Regions from separate parts of the Homo sapiens genome. Here region 2 is linked to region 1. Evidence: fine-mapped expression QTL. A gene starts in region 1. The other region holds a variant in brackets. All regions are shown on one strand. Distances are between the middles of the regions. Region 1 holds the start of TP53I13 (tumor protein p53 inducible protein 13). Region 2 holds the start of GIT1 (GIT ArfGAP 1).

Region 1 (11,171 bases):
CTGAGGTGGGAGGACTGCTTGAGCCTGGGAGGTCAAGGCTGCAGTGAGCTATGATTGCACCATTGCATTCCAGCCTGGGTGACACAGAGAGACCATTTCAAAAAATAAAATAAAATAATATAAAATAATAAAAGTGGCCAGGCGCGGTGGCTCATGCCTGTAATCCCAGAACTTTGGGAGGCTGAGGCAGGTGGATCACGAGGTCAAGAGATTGAGACCATCCTGGCCAACACGGTGAAACCCCATCTCTACTAAAAATACAAAAATAAGCTGGGCGTGGTGGCGGACACCTGTAGTCCCAGCTACTTGGGAGGCTGAGGCAGGAGAATCACTTGAACCCAGGAGGCAGAGGTTGCAGTGAGCCGAGATCGTGCCACTGCGTTCCAGCCTGCTGACAGAGCGAGACTCCATCTCAAAAAATAAATAAATAAATAAATAAAATAATAAAATTAGAAGATTTCACATAAAATGCAGGTGTCTGGCTTCTCTAGGGAAGTGGGAAGATCCAGCCACATGGGTGGGCATTTCTCAGCACAACAATGGGTTCCTCCCTCCTTCCTGTGTGACGGTGCCCACTAGGCCTGTCATTCACAGCATCACTGCACCTGTCTATGTGCCCTAGGGGCAGCATTTGACTTCACAGCTGCTGACAGTTCTCCTAACCTCAACTTCTGGCCCTCTGTGGAGAACTTGCTATGAACTGTAACCTACTAAACTGCTCCTAGAAGAACTTGCTGCTCAGAGTATCCAAACCAGCAGGTGACACCTCTGCTAATAATTCACATTTGACTTTAGGTTGCATTCATTGTTTTTATTTTTGCTTTTTAAACTAACATCCTGTCCTGGTAATGTCACATGAGTGTGATGTTGATCAGGTATACCTGGGGCAGATATTCCTAGAGAGTGTGCTGCCTGGCAGAGGAAGCAATTGAGTTGGTCATTAATTTACTGGGTGGATTCCTAAATGGGGGCCTCAGAGCAACTGCTTTGGGTAACAGGGAACATCTTTGCTGTTTCTAGACCCCTGGAGAGGGCTTGGCATCCTGACAAGGAGGCCAGGATGAGCAGCTCCGTCTTTTGAATAGCTCAATCCAGCCTCAGACAGTTGAAATTAGATGTTAATCTCTGACCAGGCATAGTGGCTCACATCTATAATCCCAGCACTTTGGGAGGCCAAGGCGGGTGGATTCCCTGAGTCTAGACATTCAAGACCAGCCTGGACAACATGGCACAATCCCATCTTTATGAAAAATACAAAAATTAACCGGGCATGGTGGCATGTGCCTGTAGTCTCAGCTACTCGGGAGGCTGAGGTGGGGGTCTGGCCCCCACATCCCAGGTCTTTCTGCTACACCACACTGTTGCCATAATGACTTCGACCTCATTCTGCCATCTCCTAAGAAAGCCAGAGTGCAGGCTAGGAATGTCACCTGAGCCCAGGAACTCAAGGCTGCAATGAGTGGTGATTCCACCACTGCACTCCAGCCTGGGCGACAGAGTAAGATCTTGCCTCAAAAAACAAACAAACAGCTGGGCACGGTGGCTCACACCTGTAATCCTAGCACTTTGAAAGCTGGGGCAGGCGGATCACTTGACATTAGGGGTTCCAGACCAGCCTGGCAAACATGGAGAAACCCCGTCTCTACCAAAAAAAATATTAAAAATTAGCTGGGTGTGGTGGTGCACGCCTGTAGTCCCCAGCCACTTCAGAGGCTAAGGCAGGAGAATAGCTTGCACCCAGGAGGTGGAGGTTACAGTGAGCCGAGATCATGTCACTACACTTCAGCCTGGGTGACAAAGTGAGACTGTCTAAAAAAAAAAATACTTTTAAAAAATAATAATTTTAATAAATGCCTACATATATGCGTGTGTGTGTATATATATATATAACATTTTTTTTTGAGACAGGGTGTTGCTCTGTCACCCAGGCTAGAGTGCAGTGGCCTGACCAGGGCTCTCTGCAGCCTCGAACTTCTGGGCTTCGGTGATCCTCCCATCTCAACCTCCTGAGTAGCTGGGACCACAGATGCATGCCACCACACCCGGCTAATTAAAAAAAGAAATTTTTGTAGAGACAGGTTTTCCTATGTTGCCCAAGTTAGTCTCAAACTCTTGGGCTCAAGTGATCCTCCTGCCTTGGCCTCCCAAAGTGCTGGGATTACAGGCGGGAGCCACTGCACCTGGCCTCAAATGCCACCATATTTCTGATTCCTGTCACCTCCAGGCTCAGAGACTGTGAGTAAACATTCTGGGCAGATAATCGTTTGCAATTGCTTCCAGAGTGCTCTTTGCTGAGCTGTTAAGCTGTGGGCTAAGTGGTAAATGTCAGGTATCTCTGCTGTCGTGGGCCAGGTGCTCAGATTGCTAGGATACAGCAGGGGGTGCCGAGATGAGGCAAGGGGCCGGGTTAGGAGTCCCTGCTCTAGCACAGCGATACTAGCTGAGTCCATCGATGACCTTTAAACCCGCTTCCCCGGTTCTGTCTAGATTACAGGGTTTGGAAGGCTTTGGAAGATGTGTTCAGAGAACTTTGCCCAAACTGGCCCACGCCTGTTCCAATGCTATGCATAGCTGTTTCTGATTCTTAGCCAGCTCAGGCCCTCTATTCTTTCCATGCTGGTCTGCGGCCTCCGTTACCCACCTGCTGAGGGCGATCTTCTGGTGGAGCAGAAAGCCCCGCTCGTAGGGCCAGGGCAGGCCGGCCTCGAACCACTCTCGGCAGCGCAGCACGGGCGAGATGCAGGCGGCGCCTGTCACGTAGCTGGAGGAGCCGCACTCGCCCAGGTAGGACAGGAGCAGCGCCGAGCCCGAGCCTTCGCTCACCGCGAACAGCGGCGCCGCCGGGTGTCGGAAGCGGATGTATGTGACCGCCTCCTTGAGGTCGGACGGGTCCCCGAAAGGCTGCAGCCGGGGGCTGACCAGTGGGCAACCGTGGTGGCCGCGGCGATGGAAGATGACCGGGTAGTAGCCGCGCTCCAGGGCGAGCAAGCAAAGGCCGAGCACGTTGCGGGTGAGGCGACCCCACGCATTGGGGATCACCAGAAGCACCGCAGGAAGGCCCCCGGCGCTGGTGATCCGGCGGCCCCGAACACAAGGTCCTACCACCCAGTCCAGGGCCACTAGCCCATCGTCCGCCAACTGCAGGTACTCCCGGGCCAGCTCAGGCCCAGGCGCTACGGGCAGGACGAAGTGGCAGAGGGTCTGCAGGTGGGGCCCGGAGAACCAGGAGCGCGGGCCGGCCTCCAGCGCCTCTGAGCGCCGCAGGGCGCGCAGCAGGCACTGGGCCAGGGCCGACGGCTTGCAAACAAGGCTGCACCCTCCCGGCAGTGGCTCGCGCCCGTCGCTGAACTGGTCCGCCGGGCCTCCGCCGTCCGCCTCCTCCCCGTCGTCTCGGTCTTGGGCCCCCGGCAGGGTCCTCTCTCCGACGGCGCGCCCCCAGGGTCCCCGGAGCCGCGGGCCGAGCAGGCCGAGAAGGGCGAGCACGGCCAAGATGAGCGCGAGGGCGGCGCCCCACGGCGGCATGGCGAAGCTGGAGAGCCCCGGCGGGCAGCGGGCGGCGGGGCCGTCTACTCGGCGAGCTCCGCGCTTTGCCCGCGGCTCCGCCCGCCGGCGGCGGCTGCCCAGGGCCCTCCCGCGCGGGCGCGCTCTGGATTGGCCGTGGCCGGGCAGAGGCAGCCAGTTCGGGCCCGGCTGCCCTCGCCCGCCCCCCACCCCCGCCCCGGCCCTTTGTACAGCAATTGCAACAAGTGGGAGCAGAGGGTGAGAGGAGCCGGGGCCACCAGGGAGGGAGGGCGCGCCGGCAGCCGGAAGGGAGTGGGGAGGGCACGAGCCGGGGAGAGCGGTGTTGGCCATGGAGACGTGGGGAGACTGGAGGCCGAGGCTTGGGGACCCGACTGTCATCAGGGTCTTCCGCCAGACCCTGGGCGCTGCGCCCTCAGAGGCCGATGAAAAGAAGCAGAAGGGAGAGGTGAGTAAGTCGCAGCTCCGGGCGCCGGCTCCCGGGACCCCGTGGGGCGGCGGCCGCGCGCGCGCTCTGCCCTCGGGCGGCCCTGCTCTCCCCCGCCCGGCCCCGCAACCCCGCAATAACTTGGCTGGGCGGGGTCCGGCACTGGGCTAGAGAGGTCGAGCGCGGCGTCTTGAGCCGCTGGCGGGAGGCTGCTGCTTCCCCGCCTGCATCAGTGCGGGTCCCGTGGACTCCTCGCCCCCGTCCCCGCGAGCTCGGGGCTCCACATCAAGGAAATCCTCAGCCCGGGAGTGGCTTCCCCAGAAACAGCAGCCCCAAGCCTCCGAGAGTCAGTCGGAGAAAAGGACACACTCAGGCGCCCTGCGACAGGGATGCCCGTCCGACCTACAAGGAACGCCTCGTAAACCGGGGTGCATGGGAGACCACGGAAATAACACGTTCTCGCTGTTTCCAAGCTTTGGGATAGGCATCTCGACCCTCGCTCTCTACCCACGTTTCCCCCCCAAATCCTGGAGAGGGAACCAGAACCAGCGCCCCGCTGCGGGGCGGGCCGGCCAGCGCACCTCCTGGGGGTGAGGCCTGTGGCGTCCCCATCTCGCGGCGACCAATCTCTTTCTAGACGCGCGCCTGCCACCGCTGGGCGACGGCGGAGGTGGGGAAGACAGCAGCCTCTCGGCTAGCTCCGGCCTCCCGGGGCTTCTGGGTTTGGAGAGTTTGGGGAGCGGAGACACCTCCCGAGGCTCCTCCGCGTTGGACCCTATTTGCGAGGGCGGGAGCGGGGTGGGCCGACGGCGAAGCTCCAGAGGTGGGACCCTCTCCCTTCAGCAGCTCTTCCTGACTTCATGATTCTGCCCCTCTTCTCATTGCAGGTCACACCGACAAATCTGAAGCGGGTTTGCCAGGGGAGTGTACCCGTCTCCCCAGCCTGGGCCACCCGGTCCACAGGGATTCCATTTCCGGCCTTACACTCCGCTCCACGATCTCATCCAGGCGCTGCAGCTGTGCAGCTGCTCTACAGACTGCAGGGACCTGCTGAGACGAATCCCCGGACGAGGAAAGGGGCCCCCCGCCTGCCCTACTGAGCCTTGCGCGCTGACCCGGTTCCTACACTTAACTTTTCCGGCTTCGGGTTTAAGACGCGTGCGCGCACACTCCGCTGCTGTGGGCGGGCATTGGGGCGGGGCGATACCGGGGGCCCACTGTCTGGGGAGGGGCGCGCGCGAGCCCAGGGCCAACGGACGCGCGGGCGGCGCGGGCGGCGCGGGGGCGCTGGGGCTGGAGGGGCGGGGCGCGCGCGCTCCCTCGCTGGCGGAGCGGCTGGGCGGCGGGCCGGGCCCGGGGCCGCTTGGAATGGCGCCTCCTCCGCCTTCGCCCCAACTGCTTCTCCTGGCAGCCCTCGCGAGGCTCCTGGGTCCCAGCGAGGTAAGGTGACCCGCTCCTGGGAAGGCCTCGGCCCGCGAGCTCAAAGCGCTTTGCCAAAAGTTCGTCCTGGAAGGAGTGGCGCGCCGAGGGGGACGCGGAGTTCTTCCGCTGGCGGGCTGGGCCTGGGGAGAGAGAGGGCAGGGCCTCGCCGCGTCCAGCGCCCCAACTCTTCGCTTTGGACCCACAGGTGATGGCTGGACCGGCGGAGGAGGCGGGAGCCCATTGTCCCGAGAGCCTGTGGCCTCTGCCTCCGCAGGTAGGAGCCCTGGAGGGCCCAGGGAGAGAGGGATGTGAAAGGCTAGCCCAGTCCCGCTCTGTTCTCGCCGCACCCTCCACAGTCACCATCTGAGGACCTCTGCCGGTTCCTCAGTCCTCAGTAGCCAACTTCTCCATCCCAGCCTGGCGCTTGGGGCCTGCCGTCCCCTCCCCACCACACACACACGGAGTCCCCCAACTGCCCTAAGCTCTGTTCTTTCCCCATGTATAGGTGTCACCAAGAGTGACCTACACACGAGTGAGCCCAGGGCAGGTGAGTACAAGCAGGGGCCCACCACCCTTGGTGTCCACGCCTGGAGACAGGCGCTCCTAGCAGGCTTCGCTGCCTGTTCTGCTGATCGGCCCCATTCCTTACCACTTCCCTCAGGCAGAGGCAGGGTTCTAGTTCTCTGCCCCACCTCCAAGCCCAGGACAGATCAGCCCCAGGACAGATGGCTCAAAGACAGTGAGCCATAGGCCTGTCATCTGCAATGCTGTGTCAGGATGCTGTTGGGTAGCTGGCTCTGTGGACAAGTGGCTGTGAGTGGAACTCTCTCTGAGAGTAGCTGGAAAAAACCCAGGCTCCAGCTCCCTGAGGAGACAGCGGGAAGTCTCCTGACTTTGTGGGCCCCAGCTTTCTGTAGGAGAGGGTATTAATTCTGTCTCTACCTGTGAGCAGCGAGGGAGGGTATGTGCCAGCACCGTGTACAGTACAGAGCTGCATCGTGCAAGGAGTGTGCCTCCAGTTGCCAGGCTCCACACTGCGGGCTCAGCTTGCGTGGTAGCATCTCCATCTTCATCGCCAGCTCCTCTGAATTTTCCTTTGAAATACTTATTATTATTATTATTTGAAATGGAATCTCACTCTGTTGCCCAGGCTGGAGTGCAGTGGCACTCACTGCAACCTCTGCCTCCAGGTTCAAGCAATTCTTATGCCACAGCCTCCCGAGCAGCTGGGATTACAGGCGTGTGCCACCTAGCTTAGCTAATTTTGTATTTTTAGTAGAGACGAGGTTTCACCATGTTGCCCACGCTGGTCTTGAGCTCCTGACCTCAAGTGATCTGCCTGCCTCAGCCTCCCAAGTGCTGGGATTACAGGTGTGAGCCACCATGCCTGGCCTGAAATACCTAACTTAAATTGGCCAGGCATGGTGGCTCACACCTGTAATCCCAGTACTTTAGGAGGCTGAGGCGGGTGGAACACCTGAGGTCAGGAGTTCAAGACCAGCTTGGCCAACATGGTGAAACCCTGTCTCTACTAAAAATACAAAAATTAGCTGGGCGTGGTGGCACACCCCTGTAATCCCAGCTACTTGGGAGGCTGAGGCAGGAGAATTGCTTGAGCCCAGGAGGCAGAGGTTGCAGTGAGCCGAGACCATGCCACTGCACTCCAGCCTGGCGACAGAGCGAGACTGTCTCAAAAAAAAAAAAAAATTCTCTGTAATAGCTCCAGGCCAAGAGTTGTTGCCTCACGCCACCTATCAGATTCCTTTCCTCAAACAGCCCTTTCATGAAGTCATTCCTCTGTTCACAAACTGTCAATGGCTCCTTATTTCCCACCTTATCGTGGCCATATTCTCCGGCCTGGCTTTTCAGGCCTTACTTAAGTAAGCTTCGTCTGACCTCTCCACATCCTTGGTTCCTCTCCAGTTGTGTCGGGCTGTTTGCCACACAAATGAGTGCCAGCCTCGCCCTTACCACAGCCCCTTTGCTCCTGTTTATTCTCCTCCACACCTGGCCTATCCTGACTCGGAGAGTGCAGCTCCCTGCCCTCCTGCCATACTCCCCCAGCCATCTTCCCAGTCCCAGCTGGCATCAGCTCCCCCTGAGACACTGCCCGATGGCATCAGCCTTTATTCCTCCCCTCCTCCTCTGAATCTATCTCTGATAATTTAACAACTAATCACTAAGTTTTATTAGTTTGCTGTTTTATTTGCATTAGTTGTTTCCCTGAGTTTCTCACACACTCCTTGCAAGCAGAGTCCAGGAGTTCTTTGGCATCTCCCACAGCATCTAGCACAGCACTGAGCACCAAGTCAACTCAATCAAAGAATAATGAATGATTGATGGAGTATTTCCATCCTGAGATTGTGCACCTGCTGCCTGCCTGCCCTGTATTTGGATGCTCTTGGGAGACTGTATAGATTGGATCGATGGTCTTCATTTGGGGGTTGCTTATGGCTTGGATTGTGGACCTGTAGAGCCATCGTTACACCTGCAGGGAAATATGGCTAGAGTGTGGTCTGAGTCTGGCAGGATTATCCAGGCATGCTGTGAGCTTTGAAGGGTGGCACTTGATGGAGAGGAAGGGTGAAAGGAACACTCAGAGGCAAGAGTGGGTACATGCCAATACCCAGGGCCCTTTGTCCTTTCCTGGGCCCTGAAGGTAGAAGAGCCATCCAGCTATCCTGGGAGTACCTTTAAACTGGTCCCCTGGATGGGAGAACTTGAGATTCTCTGGGAGGGCTCTGGGCCTGCTTTGATGTCTCTGTGCCTTTCCTCCAGGCTGAGGATGTCACCTTCCTCTACCACCCCTGTGCCCATCCCTGGCTGAAGCTCCAGCTTGCCCTCCTGGCCTATGCTTGTATGGCTAACCCTTCCCTCACCCCTGACTTCAGCCTCACGCAGGATCGGGTATGTAGCTGATGAAAGGCGCTTGCCTGGCCCTGGCAGAAGGCTATGGCCCCGTGTGCAGGGAATGGAAAATTCAAGGGTTTCCTCTTGTTTGTCCCCACCTTCCTCGTAGCTCTAACAGTTACCTCCTCTCGTAGCCCCTGGTGCTGACTGCATGGGGGCTGGCGCTGGAGATGGCCTGGGTAGAGCCAGCCTGGGCTGCCCACTGGCTGATGAGGAGGCGGAGGAGGAAGCAGAGGAAGAAGAAGGCATGGATCTACTGTGAAAGCCTTTCAGGGCCTGCTCCCTCCGAGCCAACTCCCGGTAGAGGGAGGCTGTGCCGAAGAGGGTGTGTGCAGGTGAGAGACGCTGGGCCCAGGCTTGTTGGCCCTCGGGTTCTCTGAGAGGGGCAGCAGGGTGATTGCTCTCTCTCCTCTCCTTAGGCCCTGGCTCTGGCCTTTGCTCTGCGGAGCTGGCGGCCCCCTGGCACAGAGGTGACATCTCAAGGGCCCAGGCAGCCCTCTTCTAGTGGTGCCAAGAGGCGGAGGCTGCGGGCTGCCCTTGGTCCCCAGCCCACTCGCTCAGCCCTGAGGTTTCCCTCTGCTTCCCCAGGGAGCTTGAAGGCCAAGCAGTCCATGGCGGGAATCCCTGGTAGGGAGAGTAATGCCCCATCTGTGCCCACTGTCTCCCTGCTGCCGGGGGCGCCTGGAGGCAATGCCAGCTCCAGGACAGAGGCTCAGGTGCCCAACGGGCAAGGCAGCCCAGGGGGCTGTGTCTGTTCAAGTCAGGCTTCCCCGGCCCCTCGCGCAGCAGCGCCTCCACGGGCAGCCCGGGGCCCCACCCCACGCACTGAAGAGGCCGCCTGGGCTGCCATGGCCCTGACCTTCCTGCTGGTGCTGCTCACCCTGGCCACGCTCTGCACACGGCTGCACAGAAACTTCCGACGCGGGGAGAGCATCTACTGGGGGCCCACAGCGGACAGCCAGGACACAGTGGCTGGTGAGGAGTTCCCTCCCTACCCTACCCGAGGCCCCCGCCCCACCTCGCGTCGCCCGCCGCCCCCCGTAGCTTCCCTGCCCTCCCGCCCTTGACTGCTCGGCGCCCGGCCCACAGCTGTGCTGAAGCGGAGGCTGCTGCAGCCCTCGCGCCGGGTCAAGCGCTCGCGCCGGAGACCCCTCCTCCCGCCCACGCCGGACAGCGGCCCGGAAGGCGAGAGCTCGGAGTGACGGCCTGGGACCTGCCACTGTGGCGTGCGGCTCCTCCCCGCGCCGCGAGGCCGCGACCTCTGCCACGTGGACCGCGCGCGGGGCGCTCCCTGGTGGCGATGGCGCGGCACTGGCCGAGCACTGCGGGGGCTTTCCTCCTTGTTGGTTGCTGAGTGGGCGGCCAAGGGGAGAAAAGGAGCCGCTTCTGCCTCCCTTGCCAAAACTCCGTTTCTAATTAAATTATTTTTAGTAGACTCTGGAGTTGAGCTTGTGCATCTGCCGCACAGAGACTCCCACCCGGACCCTCGTCCTAGGCCATGGAGGTGGTGTTTGAGGCAGCCCGCCCCCGCTGGCCAACCTGTCCCTGGACATGGGGCTTTAGGAATGTGCTCGTGGGAGGGTGGCGTTATCGTCATACATGTTAGCTTTGTTATTCGCAAACTAACTCTTCCACTAGACAGACGTTCCCAGCACAGGGGCTTCCCTAGGGCGGGGGTCCTGGGGCACTTGCAGTCACCCTTCATGTCTGCCACCTCCCTCCAGCCCCCATTCTCTAAGCATCAGAAACAGCTCATGGTCACTTCTTTATTTTTGATACAAATGTACATGACACGTCTTGACAGCCCACCCACCACCACACAGGTAGGGCCTGGCCCCCAGGGAAGAAGCGGGATGGGGAGAGAGCTGGTGGGTCCCACCGTCTGCCTCTCCAGCCTTCCCAGGCTGCAGCCAGGTTCCCAGGCCTCCAGAGGGTGGGACCACAGCAGGTGCAGGTAGTGATGGTGGGTGCTGGCCTTGCAGAGGTTACGGGGAGGGGACTCAGCTCCACAGCCACCAGCTGAGTCGGGGACCCCGGGGAGCCAGCCCCAGGCTCAGGTGCTCAGTCCTCCACCCTAGCCAGCACACATTCCCCCTCCACGCAGGAGCAGGAGGAGATGGAGGGAAGTGGTTTTTGATTTAAGTTCATAGAGAAGGGGCGAGAGTGGGGAGGGATCAGGGAGGCAGCTGGCAGGACCAAAACTGGCTACCCGGACAGTCCCTGGCTCCAGGTGGGGAAGGGAAGCTGATCCCCATGCTGGTCCCACTGCTCTGGTCCCCTCACCCCTCAAAACTCCAGATGGACCAGGCCTCCGGAACGGCACTGCCGCCCACACACTCAACACGCAGGCACGCGGGGGCACTCAGTTACCACAAAGTTAAAATTAAGGGGTGGGGAAGAAGAAAGAAAAAAAAAAAACAGACTTTCCAGTGTTTGCTGCTGGGGACCCCAGCACACAGGTTGGGGCCTGTGCCCTAGGCAGGGGCCATATGGCATTAAAGGGAGAGCAGCAAGGGGCTGGTGGCTACAGGGCAGGGACATCCATGGAGACTATGTACAAAGGAGGGGATGCCCCCGCTCAGCCCCCAGTAGGGCTGAACTGGCTCATGGGGGTGGGGCGCATGTACGGAGAGCTGCCCCACTTGGAGTGTCCCCACCTGCCCCTTTGCTGAGGGTGCCCTAGAAGGCGAGGGGCTGGGAGTGATGCCTTGCAGGCCCCTGCTCACTAGGAGGGGGGAGATGCTATATACAGAGGGGAGGTGCATGGAATGTGGGGGACAGAAGCTCCTGCCCCCCCACCTCCCCATCCTTAGGGGCTCGACAGGGGTGGGCACCAGGGCACCTGGCTGCCAGGGAGTGTGGCAGCACTAAGGGCACTTGTGCCAGTGGCTCT
Region 2 (10,627 bases), 23 kb after region 1:
GGCAGGCAGGAACACATACGGTGCCTGACGAGGTGGCACAAGCTGCCAGAGCAGCCATGTCATGTCCAGCTGCCTAGCAACACACTCACACTTGTCCTGTGTGCCCATGCCCGGGAGCAGAGGGAGGATGGGGCTCTCTGGGGACAGGCTGCATCTCACCTCTGACCTCCATGACCCCCCAAATTAACCAAGCACAAAAAGTCCCTGGCCCCACTCCTGTGGTTAGGACTGCAGGGCTCCTATCATAATAAAAGAAGCCTGTGACCCTGGGGTGGAGCGATACACCATGGGGCTGGCACTGGATCTGGACTCCGGACTGCTGGGTACCCTCATGCCTCTCTGCCTGAGATGCCACAGGACCCAGACCAAACATGCCGCTGCATGCCAGGGCCAGCATCCTAGGGTCCAGGTGTGGGATAGTCCCAAGCAGCCAGCCAGGGTCCTAACAAGCAGCCAAACACTCAGGGAGTGCCTGCCATGTGCTGGACACCTCGCTGGGTGCTAGGTGGGCTGATGAGTAAGACTGTCCACATCCTCCCCACCCCACCATCCTCACCTTCTCACCACCTTCCTGACCTCTATTGTGAATCAGGGGAAAGGAGGCATCTGGGGCACAAATTCCTCTGACAGATGAGGACCTGGGAGGAGGAGCTGGGCAATCCAACACATCTGATGCCCACCATTCCTCCCTGAGCCCACTGGGCATCCAGAGGCTGTGGTCGGACATTCAACGCAACATACAAAGGACAACTGCCTTGCTGGTGCTGCCCTTCACCCCTCCACCCCAGAATCAGACCACAGATTCGGAGATGGCAGCCCCCCAAAAACCATTTCTACTCCAACTTCTTTGCCTCTGAATTGAGGAAGCTGAGGACCCCACAGTGAGGAAAGTCTTGTTGGGATTACAGAGTAAGCTGGGAACAAAGGCAACACTAAGCCCCAGACTCCCCCGATTGGGCGCCTGCTAAGACTCTCCTCCACATTCCATGCCATGCTTACCCCACGGAGTTGTGGAACAGTGGGGAGACATTTATAAGGCAAGGTGCATCCTCAGCCCTGCCATCCCCAGACCTGCCTGCAGCTCGGGGAACGGAGTCACAGTTTCTTAGGGGTATGGACCCTCAACCCCAGGGCCCTCTAAACCATGATAAGCCCCTAGGAGGCCTTGGTCATAACCACCTATGGAGTATTTTGTGCCCAAGCCCTGCTAAGTCATAGTTCCCAAATACTCTAGCTTGGCACCCCCAGAACCACCAGAGCATCTGTGAGGCTCAACCGGTGGGGTCCTGGGCCTGCTCAAGGGGTGGCTGAAAGTTATGGGCCCACAAACCAGCACCCCATACTCTCACTCTTAATCATGCCCACAGCCCCGCTAGAGTTCACGGACCTCCGCAGCCTGCCCAGGGGCCTACCAGGGAGATAGCTCCTTTGCTAAAGAAAGAATGGATGTGGGCTAGAGCTTCCTTCCCAGGCCAGCTGCAGAGCCCCGTCACTGGCTGTCCTCCCTCATCAGAAGGGAGCAGCCTCTTGGATCATTACCCCTGACTTCCTCAGCAGGCCTGGGGGGTTTCACTCCAGCCCAGTCCTAACTCTGTTAGGAAAAGGAAGGGAACCACCATGTAAATACAGCCAGGAGACAGGCCAGGAAGCCAGCAGGATACGGGGAATCTCGGCACGGCCTCCCACCCATTTCTGGCCAGACTGGGCTAGGGGACAGGGAGGGGCCCGCACCCAGGATAGCTTGATGCCAAGCTCACTTTCCCAAGCAGGCCTTACCGGTGAACAGGAACAGCAGGGTCCAGCCGAGCTGTTCCCAGTCACCACCAGCAGGCCTGGGGATGCCTCCCGAGAAGACACCCGGGTCTAGACTGGCCCTGAACGCCAGGCCCGGCAAGGAGCGCTAGCCTTAGGAACCCGAGGCAGGGAGTCCTGGGAGTAGCCACCGCTCATCTGCTCCTGAGGAGACGGTATTCAGGCCCCACTGGCGCATCTGCCCGGCCCTCTGCTCCTTGCCCTCCACCACCCCGGCAGGCGTACCGACCACGCGAGCAGCAGGTGCAAGACGCGGGGGTGGCACTGAGATGACATAAAACCACACTCGCCCCCACCTCCCAAGCCCTGACGGCCTCCGCCACGGCCCTCCTGCCACCCCAGGCTGGCGCTTCCGTCGGATACAGAGATGGAGGTGGAGGAGCAGCCAGCTGCCCGCCTCCCTCAGACCGAGGAGCGGGAGGCGGCGCCGGGAACGTCCTTCCTCGCTAGTCCACGGCCTCCAGGGAGCATGGGCACCCCAGGCCGGCCCTCCCGCCAAGGGCGCAGCTCCGCAGTGGCCGAGGCGGGGGCCCAGCCTGGAGGCCGCAGCCCCCCGCCCCGCCCAGCCCTCCGGCCCCGCACAGCGCTCTTGCCAGGCCCCGGCGCCCGCCCGGCGGCGGCCTGGCTGTGCGGTCCCGCCCCCGGCCCCGCCGCGCTTACCCGGGGCGCTGCAGTCCGCACACACCTCCGCTCGCGGCCCCTTTCGGGACATCCTCAGCGGCGACGCGGCCGCAGCCCTCTGGGCCAGCGTGGGGGGCGCGGGCGGCGGGCCCGGGCGGCGGCGGCGGCCCCTGCTGCCCGGCCCGGCTCCGGCGAGGCCCCGGCGAGGCTCCGCGCGCCCGGCCAACCGTCCGCCCCGGGGCTGGCCCGGAACCCGCCGTGCCCGCCTGCCCGCTCGCCCTCGGGCGCCCTCCGCCCCGCGCCGCCCCGCCGCCGCTCGCGGCTCCTCTCTCCGCCCCCTGCGCGGCTCCCGGCCGCTTCTGCAGGAAGCGGCGCAGGCCCTGCCCACAGGGGGAGGGGCCGCACCCCCGCCCCGCCGCGCGCTGCCGGCCGCGCCCCCTAGAGAAAGGAAGCCCGGGCGCGGGCAGGAGGGGGCGGGGGCGCTTAAAGGGGCCGCGGCAGATGCCCGGCCCCGGCGGGCAGCGTGGCCTGCGGCCCTGGCCTCCGCTGCAGCGCTCGCCTGGCCCGGAGGCAATGTGAGTCACCCTCACAGCCCCCTCCCCTTCACTTTCCGCGTGGGGTGGACCGGGGGACGCTGGGCCCACGGACGGCGAGGGTGGGGATTAGGGAAGAAGGACTTGGAGGCCCAAGTCCCGCTCCAGGTCAAAGGGGCTGTGCCTTGGGGTACCCGTCTATCTCTGGTTGGGGTGAGGTGTGCGTCCCTGTCCCGTAGGTGTCCACATCTGTGTGTCCAGGGGTGTGTGTGTATGTGTCACACTCTTGCTGAATACGCCCACTGCTAACAATATGGACGCCCAGGTGCCAGAAAGGTCAGGCAGTGTATTCCCCTGCCTCCGGACTAAAAATATATCTATCTCTCCATGCATCCTTCCATCCAGAGAGGAGAGAATCTGGGCGGTTTTTAAAGACCTCCCGAGGAGTGACCACTGTGCCTGTGTGCACTCACATCCACTTGTCATCCGCCTTACACACACCCACGGTGTTTCTGGGCCACCAGAGGTGTGTGTGTCCAGAAAGGGTGCATATAACATAGAGGGGCCGTTTCAGGTGACGGCCTTTCTTCCTGGACTTCACACGACGAGGCAGGCAAAGGCAAGGCAGGTGAGGGACGTGGGTGGGCTGGGGGGCAGGGAGCCTAGGTAGAGGCCGCACATGAGCGCAGCCCCCGCACTGAGCATGCGCCCCCATACGCGTGTGCCGCGCGTGTACCCAACCCCCAATCCCTGCAGCAGCAAAAGGCCCGGGCACTCTGCTTGTGGGGAGAGGGTAGAGGTCCCCAGGGCCAGACCTGGGGGCCAGGTCAGTGGTGACAATTGAGGAGGGGTTCTCCAAGAGTCAGAGACTCCTGCTTGTTAAGATGGGGGCAGTCCTTTGGCAGGGGTGCTCAAGTTGGTCGATTATCCCA[A/G]CGGTGCCAGAGCGGCAGTGATTTGTGGGTGGGCAGGCTCCTTCCCTAGGGGAGACAAGTAATGCTCATGAGTCACACCACCCGAAATACATGCAAAGCTGCCTCCATCGCCTTTTGCTGCGGCCCAGATTGACAAGTTTGTTTGAAATCGCGATCCATGGGCTTTATTTATAATTGCACCTTAAAAAAATCTTGCAGGCCTCCCCTCCCTCGACAGCCAGCCGCTCAGCTGGTGGGGCTTTTGCAAGCAACGATACCTAGCTGGTGTGTAGGGGGGAGCACCACCTGCCGCCCCGAGCTGCTCTCTCACCAGAGTCCATGGGCTTGGTGGCCTCAGCGGGAAGGGGGTAAGGGGCGGGGGGAGTGAGACGGGAGGAGTGGCCAGGCAGCCCGTGCCAGGCGCTCAGTCCACGAGCGGTGGCCGCCCGTTCACCCCCGATCGACCCCCAGCTATGGAATTTCATTTATTAAATGTCGAGGAGGCTGCTGGCAGCCCTGCCGCTTGGCTGTCTTTGTTTCTCCGCTGTGTGGGCGCGTCTCGAGCACGTGGCAGCTGAGAGCGCGGGCCGAAGCGCAAGCGACCTGGGTTCAGTGTCTACCGCCGCCTGGCAAAAAAAGAACACGGCCGCCCAGGGGACAGTTCCCCACAATCGACAACTCCCCACAATCCATCCTGAACTCCCCCTGTCCTCGGACTCCTGGGCTTTGCTGGGGAAGAAGGATGATTCACTCTGCTTACCCCTCCACCCCACTCCCCATCTCCTGGTTGGCTCAGAGACTACCTGGGAGTGGCCCTGGCGCGGACACATCGTCCAAACTTTGTTTCCCCCAGCCCCGTCACAGCCAAACTTCTGGGCCTGGGACTGGAGATAAAAGGGTTTCTGGATTCCCCCGTGGAGATGTCACCACCCCAGGAAGCAGGACTGCTACAGTGGAATCACACACAAGGTTCGAAAAACAATTTAATAAGGAAATGCACAGGCATGCTCCCGGCCACTCCTAGATGCCCCTCAACCGCGCCAGCCCCCTCCCCTGCACTGGCTGCAGCCACGACACTCTGCTGACCCCTGGTGGTGCAGGCGGGCAGCGGTCCCGGGCCCCCGGAGACGCCAGCTGGCTCCTCCCAGGCGGGAGAAAGGGGCGAGGCAGCCCGCTCCTCCCTCATCTCTTCCCGCTGGGGCCTGGCACCACAGGGTGTGGAGGAGGAAGGAGGGAAGACCACACAAAGAAACCTGAGAGAGTTTGCAAGCTTTTGCTGGCACCTCCCACACAAACACTTCTTGGATTGTTGTTTTAAGTAGGGCCGGTGTGGAATCCCTTATTCCTGCCTTGTTCTGAGGTGGGCTCAAGAAGGCACCGTGCCTGGTCCCGCCACCTGTCTCGGCCCGCCTGGTTGGGGGAGGGAGGCGCTGTTTCCAGGGCAGTCATTATCCTTAGCTCACCCCAGGAGGTAGTATCTAGATTCTCATTTTGAAGGGGAGTGGACCGAGAAAGTCGGAAAAATTAAGCAGTTTGCTCTTTTAAGGTCAGGCAGTTGGAGCTATTCGAACTCTGGTCTCTCTGACATCACAGTCCCCTCCCTCCAGGGACTGGTCCAAGCCTCTTGGTCCTTCCAGGCCTTGCAATTGGCGCTTGAGAGGCCAATTCAACTTTTACCACACCCTCTGCAGGGACCATTCTGGAAGTACCTCTTCACCCTGGGGTCATTCAGGAAGGAGACAGTCTCTGGAATCAGTCACTTCCCTTCCTGAAGGGCCAGCTGGGTGGAGGAACGGAGCTGCCACCTGCTGCTTTTTCTGTCCAACCTCACTCTGGTTCTTGCTGGGGACAGTGTGCGGGGGGAAAGGGACCATCTTTCCCGCGTTACTGGACATTCTGTTTCCAATGACATGTGTGGAAGATGGAGTTTAATTTTCTAACAGGGCAGGGAAGACTCCTCAGAAATGTTCCAGGGGCCAGACCCCTGGCTGCTCCAATGACCCTTGGTACTGATGCCCCACACCTTTCTCAGGAGTTCCCAATCAGACGCTCTCTTCTGGGAATCCGGATCCTTCTTCATGGCCCCTGGGACCCAAGCTCAATTCTGAAGACCACACCTCCACCCCGTCTCCCAAACGCTCGACCTAGGCCCGTGCCCCCCCACTTCCCCAGCAAAAGGCAAAATGCCAGCGGGGGAGGTGCGTCCCAGCCCACCTGGCGTCAGGGCCCCGCCCGCGTCTGGGCCAGGCCTGACTCCCCGCCCACTCTCCCACGAGATCCGGGGACAGTGCAGACCCTCTTCGGCCACCTGCCACCCCCAGTTTCACGAGGCGGACTACAAACCCCATGATGCCGCGGGGCTGAGCTGACAAGCTCTACCCGGGGCGCCTGGTCCCCTTCCTCTCTCCCCATCATCCCCACATCCCCGTATCCCGCGCCGGCCGCTCGGGCTGAGGGCCGGGCTATGCAGCTGTGGGGACCCGGGGGCTGCGGGCGCGCGTCCCTGCGGCGGCGTCCCCGGGGCCCGCGTCCCGTGCGCCCCCGCGCCCGCTGCGGGCGCCTGCTCCCTCCGCCGAGCGGCGTCTTTGTGTGCGGGGGTGTGGGAGGCGAGCGCGAGTCCGCGCAGCGCCGCCGAGTGCCCGCTCCCTCCCAGGGCGGGTGGGGGCCTCTCCGCGCCGCCCGCCGCCGCCGCCTCGCGAGGACGCCCGTCGCCCGCGCCGCCCGCACCGCGCCGGGCGCGCCGCCCCCGCCCGCCGCCGCTCGCACATGCCCGAGCCGCAGCCCCGCGAGCAGGCAGCGCCGGCCCCCCGCCCCGCGGCCCCGGGCCCCGGCTCCGGCGCCGTCCCTCCTCCCCGGCCGGGCGCCGCGGCCCCGGCATGAGGAGCGGGCGATGATCCCCGCCAACGCCTCCGCCAGGAAGGGGCCCGAGGGCAAGTATCCGCTGCACTACCTCGTGTGGCACAACCGCCACCGCGAGCTGGAGAAGGAGGTCCGCGCGGGCCAGGTAGGAGCGCCTTCGGGGCGCCGCGGGGACCCCGCGGCCGGGCACGCCCGTCCGGCCTGGGGAGGGGGTGCGGCGCGGGCTGTCCCGCCTCCCTGGCGAGTTTGCGGCGCGTCTTTGTTTGCGGCCGCGGCTTTTGTGCTTGTTGACCGGGAAAGGGTGATCCCCTCCGGCCGGGACGGGCGGGACCACACGTGTTTCGGACTCACCTAGATGAGAGTAGAGGCCTCTGTGCCCCTCCTCCGCCGGGGCAGTGAGGGCTGCAGGGAGGGGCTGCGGGCTGTGTCGGTGTTCCATGTGGTGGGAGAGTCCGCCCCAGCCAGTTGAGCGGCGACACCTCCCGAGTGAGGGTGCGGAGGTGGGAAAGGCTTGCGTGGGGAGGGGGCCATAGGTCAAGAATGGGGAAGAGGCTGTGTCACACTCCCAGGCACCCCAGCCCCACCCAGCGCCCTCTCCCCAACGGTGAGCGCTTTCTCTTTTAGCTCTCAAACTGGGCAGATCCTTGGATCTCTCAGAGCCCAGCCCCAGCTCAGGAACAGGGAGTGGAGAAAGACCCTCTTGGGAGGCCCCAAGGGCCTTGTCCAGGTGCTGAAAAGCGCTCTCCTGCCCTCTGGTGCTGGGGCCTGGTTTCTAGGCGCAGAGGAAGCTGAGGGGCCCTGGCTGCTGGAAGGACTTGAGGTTCTGCGCACCAGGTGGGCTCCCTGGTTTCTGCTGGTCAGTAAGGCCACGTGGGTCACCAGCTTTGGGCTGGGCAGTGGTCTCCAGAAAACAGGGGAAGGGGGGATGTCTTCTGGCCATGCTTCAGGATGTCTTCTGGCCATGCTTCAGAACAAAGGCAGGCACAGGTCACAGATTGCCACTTCTGCCCTTGGCACCCAGGCCACAGGTAGGCACTCATGGCAGAGATGACCCCCCGCCTCCAGGGTGGGCTGCAAGAGCCAGAGCTGGGCCCGGGTCCCATGGCTTGCTGCAGGCTGAGAACCCCAGTTTTGGACTGGGTCTGAGACCTTGGGGCCATGGGCTGGGGGTGGTTAGCGCAGTTGCCCGCTGTGGGAATTTACCTTCTGAGGGCTGCTTATTGAGTCATGAGAAGTTCAGTCTGAGGAGCTGTGCAATCGCCAAGGGAAGCATGGAGGTGGAGGGCAGGCCATCGGACTGAGCAGGCTGGGGGTCAGGATGTGTCTCTGAAGTCCCACGCTGAGCCAGCCCCCAGGCCTGCATGGCATCCAGCTCTGCATGGCAGTCCCTGTAAATATGCGAGTGACCTGTGCCCGCAGGCCTCTGGGCCGGTCTGGGTGGCCACTTCCTGTTACCTGTGCCTATGCCAGCACTCTCCGAGTTTCTCCTCAGACTGAACTCCTCAGACCCTGTCTTTGTTTATCTATCATAAAGGCAGTGCTCTGCAGCCACGAGAAGCCTGTTAAAGAGAGTGGGTCACAGTGCCCCCAGGAAACAGATGAACAAACAGGGCATCAACCCCTGCCCTCAAGGAGTCTCTGTTCTGGTGAAGCAAGTGTGAACAGGAAATTCCAGGGTGATGTGCAAAGCGCTAAGACATGGCCAGCCAGCCTCTGCTGGCTCTTCTCTGCTTTCCTTCCCTGAAAGCAAAAGAAGACAAGCCTCATGTGGGAAGAACTTCCCAGGGGTCCAAGGATCACTAGGCAGAAGGCTGAATCTCCAGAATGCCTCAGTCCCACTCCCTTGCCTGAGGGTGGGTGGTCCTTTTACTGCAGAGACTGGAGAGAGGCAGAATGCCCTGGGAGAAAAGACTTCTCCAGCAGGCCTCTCTGCTGATAATCCTGAAGTGGGTGGCCATCTTGCTGGGGTAAGGTTGGGGTGGGGGGCACCGGAGCCGCTGCAGGTAGAGGTGTTGGGGGCTGCTCATGTGTTTCTCTCTCCCACCCCTCTGGCTGCCTCAGAAACAAGGTCCCAGATTCACCCCTACCCCTGCCCCAGTGAGTTAATGTCTCCTTGAAATGGACACTGCCTGTCCTGGATCCAGGCCAGGGGGAATATAGGGCACTGGTGGAGGTTAACCCTTGTTCAACCACAGAGGAGCCAGGCCAGTCCTCTCCTTCCCTCAGGCGTGCCAAAAAGAGGAATGCCACTCCGTGTAGGTGGGAGAGTTCCCTAGCTGTCTCCCCTCTCGAGGACTGGCCCAGAGTGAGGCTTGTATCCAGATGTACACTGCCTACTCCCCAGGGCACCAGGCTCTGTTTTCTGCAAGGGGGACCTGGGGACAGCCACCTAACATCATGAGAAAAGCACTGTGGAACCCTGGCATCCCAGCCAGGGGTCCCTGGCCTCTAGTCCCCCTGGTACCAGCCGCCACAGAAACAGCTCGGCTTTCCTCAAGCACTCAGGAGCCAGGTTTCCCTGGTCTTGGCTTGGCATAGCTGCCTCTTCTTCACTCCAAGAAAGCCCCGCAGAGGCCCTCCGTGGGCAGGCTTGGCAGTGCAGCTGGCTGAGGAGGGGGCCAGCATGGCCACCTTCAGAGCAGGTTAATGGGCTTTGCTCAGCCCCAAATTGCTCTGCTGGAGGCTGGAAGCAGGGAGTGATGGGCAGATAGGAGGTGCCTGGTGAAGGGAAGGGGCACCCAGCAGTGCTGTGATGCCAGCCCGGTGCCCTGCTTGCCGCTATGCATGTTCTCTGCCAGGTCGGGGGGGACAGGGTTGTAAGCCAGGGAATATGCCAGTTCCCCCTTGCCTGGCATGGCCAGCTGGGCATGGTCCTGGTTCTGGAGTCGTGAGTTCCTGGTGTTCCCTGGGGTGGGAACAGGGGGAAGGGTTAGCCTGTGCAGCTCCCGTGGGAGGGACATGTGTGGGCTGGGCCTGGGGAGCAGGACTCTGCCCCTGGCAACCAGAACCCTGAAGTGGGCAGATTGTGGTCCCAGAGAATCATTTTCCTTCTCCCTGGGGCGTTCTCCACCGTGGGCTTGCTTCCTGCTTTCCCTGTTCACCCTTCTGACCTAGAGGCAGGGGAGATGGGTTGTGGGGCCCAGGATGTGCGAGGAGCACCTCAGACCCCTCCCTTTGCCTACACTGGGCAGTCCTGGATGTGGGGCATCACCACAGCTGGTAAGCTAGGAAGCTCGGGAGAGGGAGCCACAAACCCCAGAAACCAAAAATCAATGTGTTCTGGGATGAGGGGGAGGGGCTGCAAGGGCAGGATGGGAGGGGTGACATGGAGGGAGAAGTCCAGGGTGCGGTCCCCACAGCCCGTGGCCTCCTACGCAGCTTGAGGATGCATCCTGCCTCCCTCCCCTTGAATGAGCTCAGGCAGACCTGCCCCTGCACCCCACGCTGGGCAGGAGAGGTCAAGCAACGACTACACCAGACTCCTGCCTTCCTCCTCGTGGGCTGGGGAAGGGGCTGAGCAGGCACCACCTTGAGCACAGGCTCTGCGTCCCTCACCTTCCTCGCAAGCACTGTGTTTAGTCCATACATGAGATGTATGCTTTTCATACTTCCCTTAACAAAAGGATTCTGCTCATGCTAAAGGAGTTTGGAAAGTACCCTGCTAGTGCACATGGGTGTGAGGGGTGTTCCTGTGCAAATACGCACACACACGTTACACAGGAGTGGACTCCTGCAGGGCCAGAAGGCAGCTGGGCATGCATGTGCTTGTACACTTAAGGGCACACGTGAGTACCTATGAGCGTACGAGTGTGTATCTGTATGGTACCAGTGTGTACTAGAGTGTGGTGTGTGTGCCTGAGTGGAGGTAGGGAGGCTCTCTGCCCAGGGACC

What was found. PIP is the estimated chance that this variant, and not a neighbour inherited with it, causes the effect.
Region 2: its variant is fine-mapped to the expression of TP53I13 in monocytes (BLUEPRINT, PIP 0.95).

The regions. Positions count from the first base shown.
Region 1 is chr17:29,563,445-29,574,615 of GRCh38, forward strand. TP53I13 (tumor protein p53 inducible protein 13) reads left to right here and starts at 5,257. Exons shown (of 7, transcript NM_138349.4): 1 at 5,257-5,386; 2 at 5,574-5,642; 3 at 5,874-5,915; 4 at 8,147-8,275; 5 at 8,413-8,613; 6 at 8,698-9,253; 7 at 9,368-9,713. The coding sequence starts at 5,315. The coding sequence ends at 9,480. It overlaps ABHD15 (abhydrolase domain containing 15), which reads right to left and starts at 3,593. Exons shown (of 2, transcript NM_198147.3): 1 at 2,642-3,593. The coding sequence starts at 3,522. GIT1 (GIT ArfGAP 1) reads right to left here. Exons shown (of 20, transcript NM_014030.4): 20 at 10,031-11,171. RefSeq lists enhancers at 2,534-2,643, 4,664-4,713, 5,797-6,297 and silencers at 3,164-3,783, 3,874-4,133, 5,134-5,493, 9,447-9,516.
Region 2 is chr17:29,586,855-29,597,481 of GRCh38, forward strand. It overlaps GIT1 (GIT ArfGAP 1), which reads right to left and starts at 2,794. Exons shown (of 20, transcript NM_014030.4): 1 at 2,473-2,794. The coding sequence starts at 2,524. ANKRD13B (ankyrin repeat domain 13B) reads left to right here and starts at 6,278. Exons shown (of 15, transcript NM_152345.5): 1 at 6,278-6,881. The coding sequence starts at 6,768. RefSeq lists enhancers at 1,076-1,975, 2,875-3,774, 7,397-7,466 and silencers at 2,193-2,382, 2,643-3,122, 4,883-5,072. The variant A/G (reference allele first, on the strand shown) is at 3,899.